2 separate regions of the Homo sapiens genome follow, and region 2 is linked to region 1. Evidence: fine-mapped expression QTL. Tissue or cell type: thyroid. Region 1 holds a variant in brackets; the other region holds the start of a gene. All regions are shown on one strand. Distances are from middle to middle.

The links. PIP is the estimated chance that this variant, and not a neighbour inherited with it, causes the effect.
Region 2: LINC01512 starts here. The variant in region 1 is fine-mapped to the expression of LINC01512 in thyroid (GTEx, PIP above 0.99).

Annotation. Positions count from the first base shown.
Region 1 is chr6:43,935,696-43,941,007 of GRCh38, forward strand. LINC01512 (long intergenic non-protein coding RNA 1512) reads left to right here. Exons shown (of 2, transcript NR_024478.1): 2 at 669-2,512. Among named protein-coding and RNA genes, the nearest start is that of LINC01512, 47 kb to the left of the region's middle. The variant C/T (reference allele first, on the strand shown) is at 2,823.
Region 2 is chr6:43,888,461-43,893,629 of GRCh38, forward strand. It overlaps LINC01512 (long intergenic non-protein coding RNA 1512), which reads left to right and starts at 2,568. Exons shown (of 2, transcript NR_024478.1): 1 at 2,568-3,005. All of the region lies in intron 2 of LOC105375070 (a long non-coding RNA gene), which reads left to right. RefSeq lists an enhancer at 1,027-1,988.

The DNA of each region.
Region 1 (5,312 bases):
AAACTGGTGAGCAAGAAGCAGAAGGGGAGCATTGACAGTCCCCAGAGGGAAATGATCGTGCCTTTGAATTTTCATTTATTCATTCGTTGATTCCACCATTCATCTGCTACTGAGCATCTTCTGTATGCTGGGCATTGCTGGGAACAGCATGAGGGCCCATGGGGGAGGCAGTGTTTCTGATGGGCAGACCACTCTTTTGGCCCCTTTTGTGGAGACAGGCCAAGCTTGAGGTAGAGACTGCAGTTGTGGGGGACAGGCAGCCACAGATCCTTCCCATTTGAACGGGGCAGTGGTTAGCAGCTGGAGGGCATTTGAGGTGCAGCCTGGGGCAAGTAGAGGAAAGCCAGACCCTTTGGGAGGCTTCCCAGGGCCAGACCACACGAGGCAGGCAGAAGGAGGTCCACAAGGGCAAGGGAGGCGCCAGAATGGGAGGGCTGTGTCTCAGATATAGTAGGAAGACCCAAGTTCAGTCCACAGACAAACTTGAGGGATCCTAGTGTCCCACTCATTAGAACAGGGAGCCTCATTGTCAGGACTTTCTGGAGCCTTGATTTGCACATGTCCTCCCCACCCTGGGGTAGATGTGTGTGCCTATTTGCATAAAGCATGTTCCTACCCAAATTCATCTCAGGCATTGTGACTTATATCTTTGCTTTCTCTCCTCACAGCTGGCTGTCCCCATGCCTTCTGCTCCCGCTTCTGGAAGGGAAGACAGGGCAGGGACCATGTCCAGCTGCAGAAAATCCCAGTGTTTTTCTGTGGCATTGCCTGGTAAAGGCTGAACGTGGCTTTCGTGAGAGCTAATCTGCCTGCCCAACCAGATTGTGCTGTGGCTAAAATTGCTGTGAGCTCGACAGTGCCTGAAGACTGGAGAAAACTGAGCCATGTCTTGGATGCTCTTGCGGGGCCTAGGGGAGTGCCAGGCCAGAAGGAGAACTGCCTGTGGACTCTCAGTAGGAAAGCAGCTAACGAGGTGATGAGTGAGTGTCGCCTGGAAGTCTGGGGGCCATTCCATGTGGGTCACATCGCCTGACCAGAGGGTTGGGTGCCTGGACAGGGCTGAGCTTGGGACTCCTTCCAGGGCCTGGCCTCAGCTGCTGGGCCTGCCGAGCATGCCCCACAAGCACCCACGCACACATACAAGTATGGAGGCAGAGTGGAAGTTTGACTTTTGCAGATCTCGTACAGCCTGGAGTAGAGAAGAGAATTGGGAACTCTCAATGTTGTGTGACCCTAGGCAAGTCCCTTCCCTGCCTTGTGCCTCAGTTTCCCTTTACATACCATGAGGATGTTCCCAGTGTTGGTGTTTTAATGCCTGCAGACAAGCTAAGCTCATCATCTGGTTCCCGGAAGAGATCCTCCTTTTGTGGAAAGGCCACAGCCACTCTGCCACCCTGAGGCTCCCACTCCTCCTTCTCTGGAACCCTCTCCCTTGCCTGTAGGTCACGGGAATGTCAAGAGCACCCAGGGAAGTGCCTGCTGCCAGTCATCACTCACTGATTATGTGACAGCAGAGGAGCCAAGAAGCTGCTGGGAATCGAGACACCCCCCCATTCAGTCCCCACCATCTCTGTCTTCATGAGGTTCCCTGGGAGAAGCTCCTATGTCTGGGAATGGAAATGTCTCCACCTGGATAGGGACAAACAGGAGCTGGGGGCTGCATCTTAAGACTTCTTGTCCCATTAGTGCTGACCTCTGGAGACGGCTCCTGAATTGTGCCCACTCCCCCACCTCCTCACCACACACATGCTCTGGGCCGTGCGAGGCTCAGCTTGTCACGGACAAGCTAAAATGAGGTGGCCTGAATGCCCCTTATCATAGACAGCTTATCTCCTGTGGTCACTCACCTGACAGACTCCAGAGAGCCACTCAGCGGGCCTCTCCCAGCCGCCTGCTTCTCAGCTCTGACTCTCCCTTGCCTTAAGGGGACACTGGATTCCAGTGACCCTCCTATTGGTCAGAGTTGGGCTGAGCACAGAGAAGGGGTAGAATGCTCCTGGGAACTCGGAAAGCTCTGGGATGCCAGCTTTTCCCACATGTTCTCACTCACCCCTCTGTAATACAGATTCTGCAGCCCTGCCCCCCACACACACACTCCTACACCTCTGCTCTCAAAGTGAAGAAGTAGGCTAATATCTGTGGTACATTTATTTACCTACTCCCTGAGACTGCAGCTCCCTTAGTCAGTGTTGTGTCCTCCACTCAGGCTGGGGCTCCCTGAGGATGGGGCTGTGTCTCCCCTCAGACTGGGGTTCCCCAAGGACAGGGCTGTGTCTCTCCTTAGGCTGGGGTCCCTGAGGGTGGGGCTGTGTCTCCCTGCAGATTGGGGCTCCCTGAGGATGGGGCTGTGTCTCCCTGAAGACTGGGGCTCCCTGAGGACAGGGCTGTGTCTCCCCTCAGGCTGGGGCTCCTTGAGGATGGGACACTTTAAAGAAGAGAAATTGACAGGTTGACCCTGGGGGATCTTTGGGTCAATAAAACATTCTATAGACCCTCAGTGGTCAGACTAGGATGATACCTTGATGATAGGTGGTTTTTTTGTTTGCTTGTGTGTGTGTGGTTTTGTTTTGTTGTTGTTTTGTCGTGTTTTGTTTTGCTGCTGTAGGTTTTTTAAAATCTGGAGGTTTGGTTGTTCATGAAGATAGGATGAAAAAGAAAGGAAAAAAGGAGGAAGGGAGATAAAGAAGGATGGAAGGAAGGAAGAGAGTGAGTGAGGGTTGGAAGAAGCAAAAGAAAGAAGAGAAAGGGAAAGACACAGAAAGAACGGTGAGAGAGAAAGCTCACAATCTGTTTTTCTTTTACATCTCCTGCAGGGGAGTTTA[C/T]TTGTTTTAAATCCTCTTATCTCCAACACTTGTTTCTCCACTGGTTGCCGTGTCTGTGGAGCGAGGCTGGTTTTTCTCTCAGCGACAACAGAATGCCAGGCTCCATAGCCGGCCTGGGCGCAGGAGGAGGAAGGGTTCACACTGACGGCCCCGGGGGCCTCTCCAGGCCCTTTCCCATCCATCCTCTCCTCAGTGGCAGCTCTCACCTGGCCCTAGACCCTCATGACCCAGAACAGGGGACATGGCTGTCCAGCTTGTGTGGTAGGCTCTGGCCAGCTCGGTCTCCTTCCAGCCTTCCTCTCCCCAAGACCCCTCTCCTCAAGAGCCTGCCCGAAGCCCTGGTGGACGTGGGCCCAGCCAGAGGCCTCCCTGCCTTCACCTCAGCTCCCGCCACTTCCCCTCCTGTGTGGGGGCCTCCCCTGGGGCCACCTCTTCCCAGAGCTTCTCTTGATGCCCTGCTCCCCCGACTCCCTTGTTCATGCGTCCATCCTTTCAACACATATTTTCGTGTCCCTGAGACGTGCCAGGCCTAAGACATAAAGGGCCTAGGGACCTCAGTGTCCAGTGGAGGAAACCAGATGTCGACAGTCAATTAAGCCCCTTTCAGGCGAGTTTCAACTTACCCTGGTCTAACAATAATATCTAACACTGACTGCAGGGGTTATGATGTACCAGGCACCATTCTAAGTGTTTCACGTGGAGTAACTTATTTCATTCTCCAAACAGCTCTAGCAGGTAGGGCTGTTACCCTCCCGCCTCGCAGAGGGTGGCACCTGGGCATGGAGCCGTTCATAACTTCTGAGGGTCAGACCTGAATACAAACCCAGATGGTCTGGGCCAGGGGCTGAACTCTTAAACCCAGTGCTGCTCACCTCATAGCCTAGCGACTGGGGTGTTTCTCTACGCCCCCTCAGGCCCACCCCCTGCCCCTTGCCCCACCAGAGGGCCCCGGACAGTCTTGCTGCACACCAGCTCCCTGCCCGGGCGGAGCTGGCCATCTTGGAGAGAAGTGACTTGGATTCCCGCCCTGCCTATCCCAGCGCTCTTGAGCGTGGCCTGATGCCTGTGGCCCCTCTCTCTATGGAGACTGGGCATCTCCCAGGCCAGACTGGCAGCCTCTGGCAGGCAGGGCCCGAAACCTCCTCAGCATTGGGCACTGAATGGGTCCAGCACCCGACTCCTGGAGCTGGCAGCTCCCAGACCAGGAGGGGAAGTGGGCGCTGGGGGTTGGCAGGCGGCCAACGCTAGGGGAGGCCTGAGCAGGGTTATGCCTGTAATAACCATGAACCAGGAGGGAGCTGCCAACCCCCAAGGCCTCCCCTGCCCCCTCTGAGGAAATTTTTCTTCAGTCAAGCAAATATCCTGCTGGTCAGTCTCAAGCCTCAGTTTCCTCAAGGCCCAGAGAGGCTAGTAAGAAACAGCCCTCATCTCAGGGATTGTTTGGGGATTTGACCCTGATGGGCCTTGGAAGCTCAAGTTATGCCCCTCCCTAGGGGTCCTAAGCACGGCTCAGAAGTGATGGGAGATGTCTAAGATCTGAGACATAGGAAGGCAGGAAGAAGCTGAATATATAGAAAGAAAGTAATTAGGGACAAATATGGTGCATTTGCACACTCAGTGTATGTTGAGCACCTATGGTGTGCCTGGCACTGTGCTGGCCCTGGGTGTACAATGTCAGGCATAGCACGGCCCCAGCCTTCCAAGAGCTCCCAAAGCTGGTTGTAGCCCATATGTCCCAAAATCCAAGTGGGGAAGGGGAAGCTGGGGTGGAATGACATGTTCCCAGGTCAGCTCAGGTCACAGCAGAGGCAGGGCCAGATGACGAGGCCTGTGTCCCAGGCCTTAGGCCCCTGATGCCCTCATCTCCTGGCCCAGAGCACCAGGACCACAGCATCTAGTCCCTATCCAAGTCTGAATAATAACCACAGATGTGAGAGCCAGCCCTGAAGTTAACCAGGGAGGGAGGCACCTCTCGGGAGACAGTTCAGGTCTGACGTTTATGTCTGAGGCTGACAGGTCTGACCTGTGCCTTTCTGACTCTACTCAGCAAGAGCAAGCATTGGTGAGATGAGTGCTCCTCGGGCACCAGTTCTGGTCTTCATTGTGTTGGGACCACGATTCAGGGTCTTACGGGGACAGGGGATGGAGGGAGCTTCACCATGGAGGCTCCTCACACCTCATGAGCCTCCCCTATCGGCCTCAAAGCCCTTCTGTGGCAGGTAGGAAAGGGAGAAACTTCCGGAGCCGATGCCAAAGCTGATGGTCTCCCCTGTCCCGGGGCCAAACAGCCTGAAGAGGAAGAGACAGAGCTGGGAAAAGGTGGGACCAGCTAGGGTGAGACCTTCTCAGACCAAGATCATCCTGTCTCTCTGGTTGCCAAGATCTAACAGGCCACCCCTGAGCCCAGGGCTCCCTCTCAGGCCTGCAGCCCTGCCCCTGGAGTGTGTGTGGATGTAGGTGCTTATATGCATGAACATCTGCCTGCCCATT
Region 2 (5,169 bases), 47 kb before region 1:
CAGGCAGGCACAGGGCAGGTGCCCTGCTCTGCTCCTGTGGCTCTTGCCCAGGAGGGCGCGGCTGCTGAGCTTAGGTCTAAAAATAAGGTATCTGGGAGGAACGGCTTTAATTTGCACTTTACCTATTGGTGTTTACTTTGCTATTTCCAATACGGTAATTTAATTCTGCAGGGTGCCTGACTGGGGGGCACCTGAGGCGTGCGGTTACCTGACCGCACCAGGAGTGACTCTTGTGTCCCTGTGCGGCTCTGACAGAGAAGCCGCAGGGACAGTGGTGGTCTTTGGAGTTCACAGGTATGGGCATGGCATACAGGGGCAGGAATGGGCATCAAGACCCCACCATGCCCAGATCCACCATCCTCTCTTCTTCATTCAAACCCTTGCCCTGATGGCAGAGCAAGGATCCCCTTCTGCCACATGTCCCTGCCTGCTGCTTGTCCCCACGTCTCTTCCTGCCCATGGCCAGGGGCTCCATCTCTGCTGAGATGCCTCCCTCTCACCGCCAGCGATGAAGGAACTCTCTCTAGGTTTCTCTGTTGGACATACAGCTATTTACACTACAGCGTTGATGTCTTCCACCCTCCCACCACTAGTAGCTTGCTTTGTTTTAGTTTTATATTTTGTCTTTTCTTGGAGATGTGGGCTCACAGAAGCAGGGCTATGTCTCTCTCTCTCAGACTGGGAGTCCCTGAAAGCAGGGCTGTGTTCCACTCTCAGACTGGGGTTCCCTCAGGACAGGCTGCACCCCCCGCCTCAGATTAGGGGCTCCCCAAAGGAGAGAATATGTTTCTCTCTCAAATTAGGGGTCTCTAAGGTATGGCACTATGTGCCCTTTGGCCTCAGGCCTACCCAAGGGCAGGGCCTCAAAATCTCTTATTTGTTGTGTCTCTGCTGCCATCACCCATGTCTCTCCTTCCTGCCACCCCCCAGCCCCACATCCCAGGATGGCTTTACACCCCTCTGGTCAGGGCTGTGTCTATTAAAGCCACCAAGAGTGCATTTTGTCCTGCTCCTCCCTGGCCAGCAGAAGTGGCTGACAGGACCACATTAGGACTTGGTGGGCCATAAGCATTTTTTGTTGTCATGGACCCCTTTTTCCATTAAAAAAGTAAAAAGTTACATTTTACAGTTGTGTTGGGATAAAGGTAAATATATTCACATTATATATGAAAACATTTCTGTTGACTTAGAAGATCATTTCTTCCCTCTGATTTTAAAACAACTCAGAATACTTTGTGGGCTCCTAGGAGTACCATGGGCTGGGGCTGAGCCTGGTGTGTCTGGTGGAGAAGCCGCCCTGATGGCTAGGGCTCCAGCTGGGCCTGGCTGCAGGAGTCCGCATTGAGCCTCAGCATTGCTGGCGGGGATGCCTTTCCCATCCTTTAGCTTTGTTGTTGTTTTGTTTTGTTTTGTTTTGAGACAGAGTCTCACTCTGTCGTCCAGGCTGGAGTGCAGTGGAGTGATCTCAGGAGGCTCGCTGCAACCTCTGCCCCCTGGGTTCAAGCGATTCTCCTGCCTCAGCCTCCTGAGTAGCTAGGATTACAGGCGTGCACCACCATGCCCGGGTAATTTTTTGTATTTTTAGTAGAGACGGGTTTTCACCATGTTGGCCAGGCTGGTCTCGAACTCCTGACCTCAGGCGATCCACCCGCCTCAGGCTCCCAAAGTGCTGGGATTACCATCCTTTAGCTTTTATAAGCCTCATACTGTCCCCGTGAGTTGGGCAAGGCCAGAATTCTCATCCCACGCCAGCCATTGACACTACCACTGCTGTGGATATGGCCATGGCCATGGCTGGGACGGGGACCTCCTCAGCTGCTCCTTTGCCCATATCAGGCGCTGTGTTAGGCACATGGCCACCTTAATCTTATTGAACCCTCACACCAGCCTCTGGGGCAGGCACTGTGCTTATTTCCCATTTCACAGATAAGGAAATCGAGGCTCAGAGGGAAGAAATGATGGGCTGAAGGCCACCTAGCCAGTCGGTGAGAGGGTGGAGACAGAGGACACAGGGGCCCCGGCTTCAGGAAGTCTAGGTCTTTCCACCCTAGAGACAGTGAAGGGCCAGGCAAGAGGTAGGTGGGGGTCGGTGGAAGAAATTGGTTGTGATGTCTCAGGACACAGTAGCAGGAAGGTGCCTTAGAGAGCTTGCATGGAAGGAACGGGCCTTCCTGCCCTGCCCCCATTCCCCTGGTTTCCAGCCCGGAGGGTTTTCAGGGCTAATGGAGGGGAAGGGCACAGACTTCACTCCTCTGTGGAGAGAGACACAGGGATTCCTGACCAAGCTGCCATGGATCCTTCCCTCCTCCAGGTCTGCTAACTCCAGGCCCTCCCTGTCCAGCCACGTTGTCTGGAGGCCACCTGGCAGTCTCATCTGGGTTGGGAGGCGTGGGGTCTCAGAGCGGGAGGAGAGAACCTCGTGGTGGGGGGAGCTAGCAGTGAGGGAGTGGGCTGTGGGGAGTCTGGGTCCCACCCCCGGGACTCTGTCAGTGGCAGGGTAGGGGTACCCAGAGCCATGGCAGGAACCACCCCCTGCCCGCCCCCGACTAGAGGCTCAGCTTCCCTGCGTGCACCTAGCTCAGGAAGCCTTCCTTTCTAGTCTCTACAGCTGTTTCCCTCTTTTCCCATCTCATTCTTCCCTCTTCATTTCTGGCCTATCTTTTAACATCTCCATCCCTTTGATGCCTCATCCATCTCCTCTTCACCGTCTTGTCTTTGCCTGTTCCCTTTTCTGCTTCTCTGCTCCTCTTAAGGCTGGGTTTTCCTCCTGCGTCTCCTCTGTGCGCCTGTGAGTGTCCCCTGTCTGCTCATCCTCTCTCCCTCTGTCCACCTGTTTCTCTTTCTTCCAGCGTTTCTCCATCTCACGCGCTGCCTCTGTCATTTTCTCTCTTTCTTCGTCTTTCTCTCTCTCTCATTGTTCTGAGACATAGCAGTGCCTGGCCCAGCGGGGACAACATGTTTCACAGACAAATCATCCAACAAAAGAGAGGAGGAACGTGCTTCAGGTGAGCGTGAGCGCCGGCCCTGCTGTGTGCTGTGTGCGCATGGTGGGGGGAGGCTGGGGTGGGGGGGGCGGCAGGAGGCCAGTCAGGTGCGGGCGCCCAGGGCCGGGCGGGAGGGGCTCACGGGAAAGGGCTTTTGTGCAGACCAGGCTCTGGGTGGCTTTCAAGCAGCACATCTTTCTTCCAAAGCCAAACCTTTGATCCCCAGAGACATCAAAAGAGCCATCTGCATTTGTGTTTCCTCCAGGTAGAGGAGCAGGGGAGGGGCGAGGAGAGAAAAGGGGAGGGTGGCAGGCATGGCGGAGGGGGTGCTGAGAGGGGCCGCGCCTGGCCTCTTGAACCTGCATTTCAGGGAAAAGCCCCTGTCCGGAACCCACTGCTGCGCCTTCTTGGCTGGGGGACTCCTCTGCCGACTAAATGACTAACTGGGCTATCTTCAATATCAAATGAGAGGACGTGTTCTAATGAAAAAGCCCTGTAAAGAGACAGGGGGTTTGGTGTGGGTCAGGAGCAGCTGGTGCCCTCTCTAAGTGACCCCATGGGGCTTGCTTTAAAAAGCCTTCTGGGCTAGGCGCGGTGGCTCACGCCTGTAATCCCAACACTGGGAGGCTGAGGCGGGCAGACCACGAGGTCAGGAGTTCGAGACCAGCCTGGCCAACATAGTGAAACCCTGTCTCTACTAAAAATACAAAAAAATTAGCCGGGCGTGGTGGCAGGCGCCTGTAATTCCAGCTACTCGGGAGGCTGAGGCAGGAGAATCACTTGAACATGGGAGGTGGAGGTTGCAGTAAGCCGAGATCGTGCCATTGCACTCCAGCCTGGGTGACAATTGTGAAACTCTTGTCTCAAAAAAAAAAAAAAAAAGAAGAAAAGAAAAAAAGCCTCATTTCCCTGTGTTGATTCATCCCTCCAGGAAGCCTCCTACAGTAGTCAGGTTTCTCTCCCATTACTGAATCTTTTCGGCTCCTATGGGTTCAGCTCTCCCGCCTTGTCGGAATGGGGTGCTGGTCATTTCCATGGCCCCAGCAGACCAGAAGGTGGCTAAGGGAAAGATCACATCTTTGTTTTCTCTTTTGGCCCCAGGGCCTGGCCCAGGTGGGGTGAACCAGATGTCCTTGATCATAATAATACTCTCCTGTAGTCATGAGGAGCCGCTGATTTCAAACCACTTTAGCAGACACCCTAGCATTTGCTCCTCACCCTGCCCAGTGAGGAAGGCAGGGCATAGATTCACATCCCCATTTTATAGTCAAAGAAACTTGAGTTTCAAAGAGGTCAAGTAACTTGTCCAAGATCAGTTAGCAAGTGAGACTGGTAAGAAGCCCAGGAGTCAGTCTGTCATTTTCATTTTACAGATGGGGAAATTGAGGCAGAGCGTAACAGAAACACAGGTTATTAGAGACCAGGTCCAGATTAAAGCCTAAGATTCTAGACTTTTTCTTCCAAACCGTAGTGACTGGACTACCCTCCCAGCCTCCACGTGGTAGACGCATATCTGGGGGACAGCTGGCTCTCAGAGAACGTTCAGAAGATCCAGGGCTATGCTGGGGTGGGCGTGGGGGCTTCCAGTCAATTTTCTGGGTTAGAACTCATGCTATAGGAATTCCAGATGTACCCTCATGGCCCTGACCAGGGGACAGGCGATTGGTCCTGCTCGCAGGTGACGTGAGGCAGAGAGAGGGGCTGGATCAGGACACTGCTATCTATTTCTCTCCCTGATTTTCATACCGGGCTGAGTGCATGGCTCTGCCTTTGGCTTCCAGGAATGGAGAGCAGCAAAAGGCAAGGACAGCAGCTGGTTCCATGGGAGCTCCCCATAGGCCACCCAGGCCCAGCGTCGCCTTTGTTTTAGACAACAAAGAGTGTCTCATGTGGTCTCCAGACTGACGGCAAGGTGCGGACCTCTGTTCAGGCACCTCAGCTTCCAAGACTGAGTTCTGAGTCAGAATCCTCCAGAGTCCTTGGTCTGGGGCTTCCACCCCACTCAGCCCCAGGACTTCCAGGATTAGTGTCCTTGCCTGAGTTCTGTGTTTTGTCTACCAAATACCCCACGTTTATTAAGCACTGATCTATTTCCCCATTTTATTAATGAGGGATGACTGTTCCTGAGATAATCAGTGTTTCCAGTGTATTGCACTGAGAAAATACCAGCTAAGGCCAGAGGTTT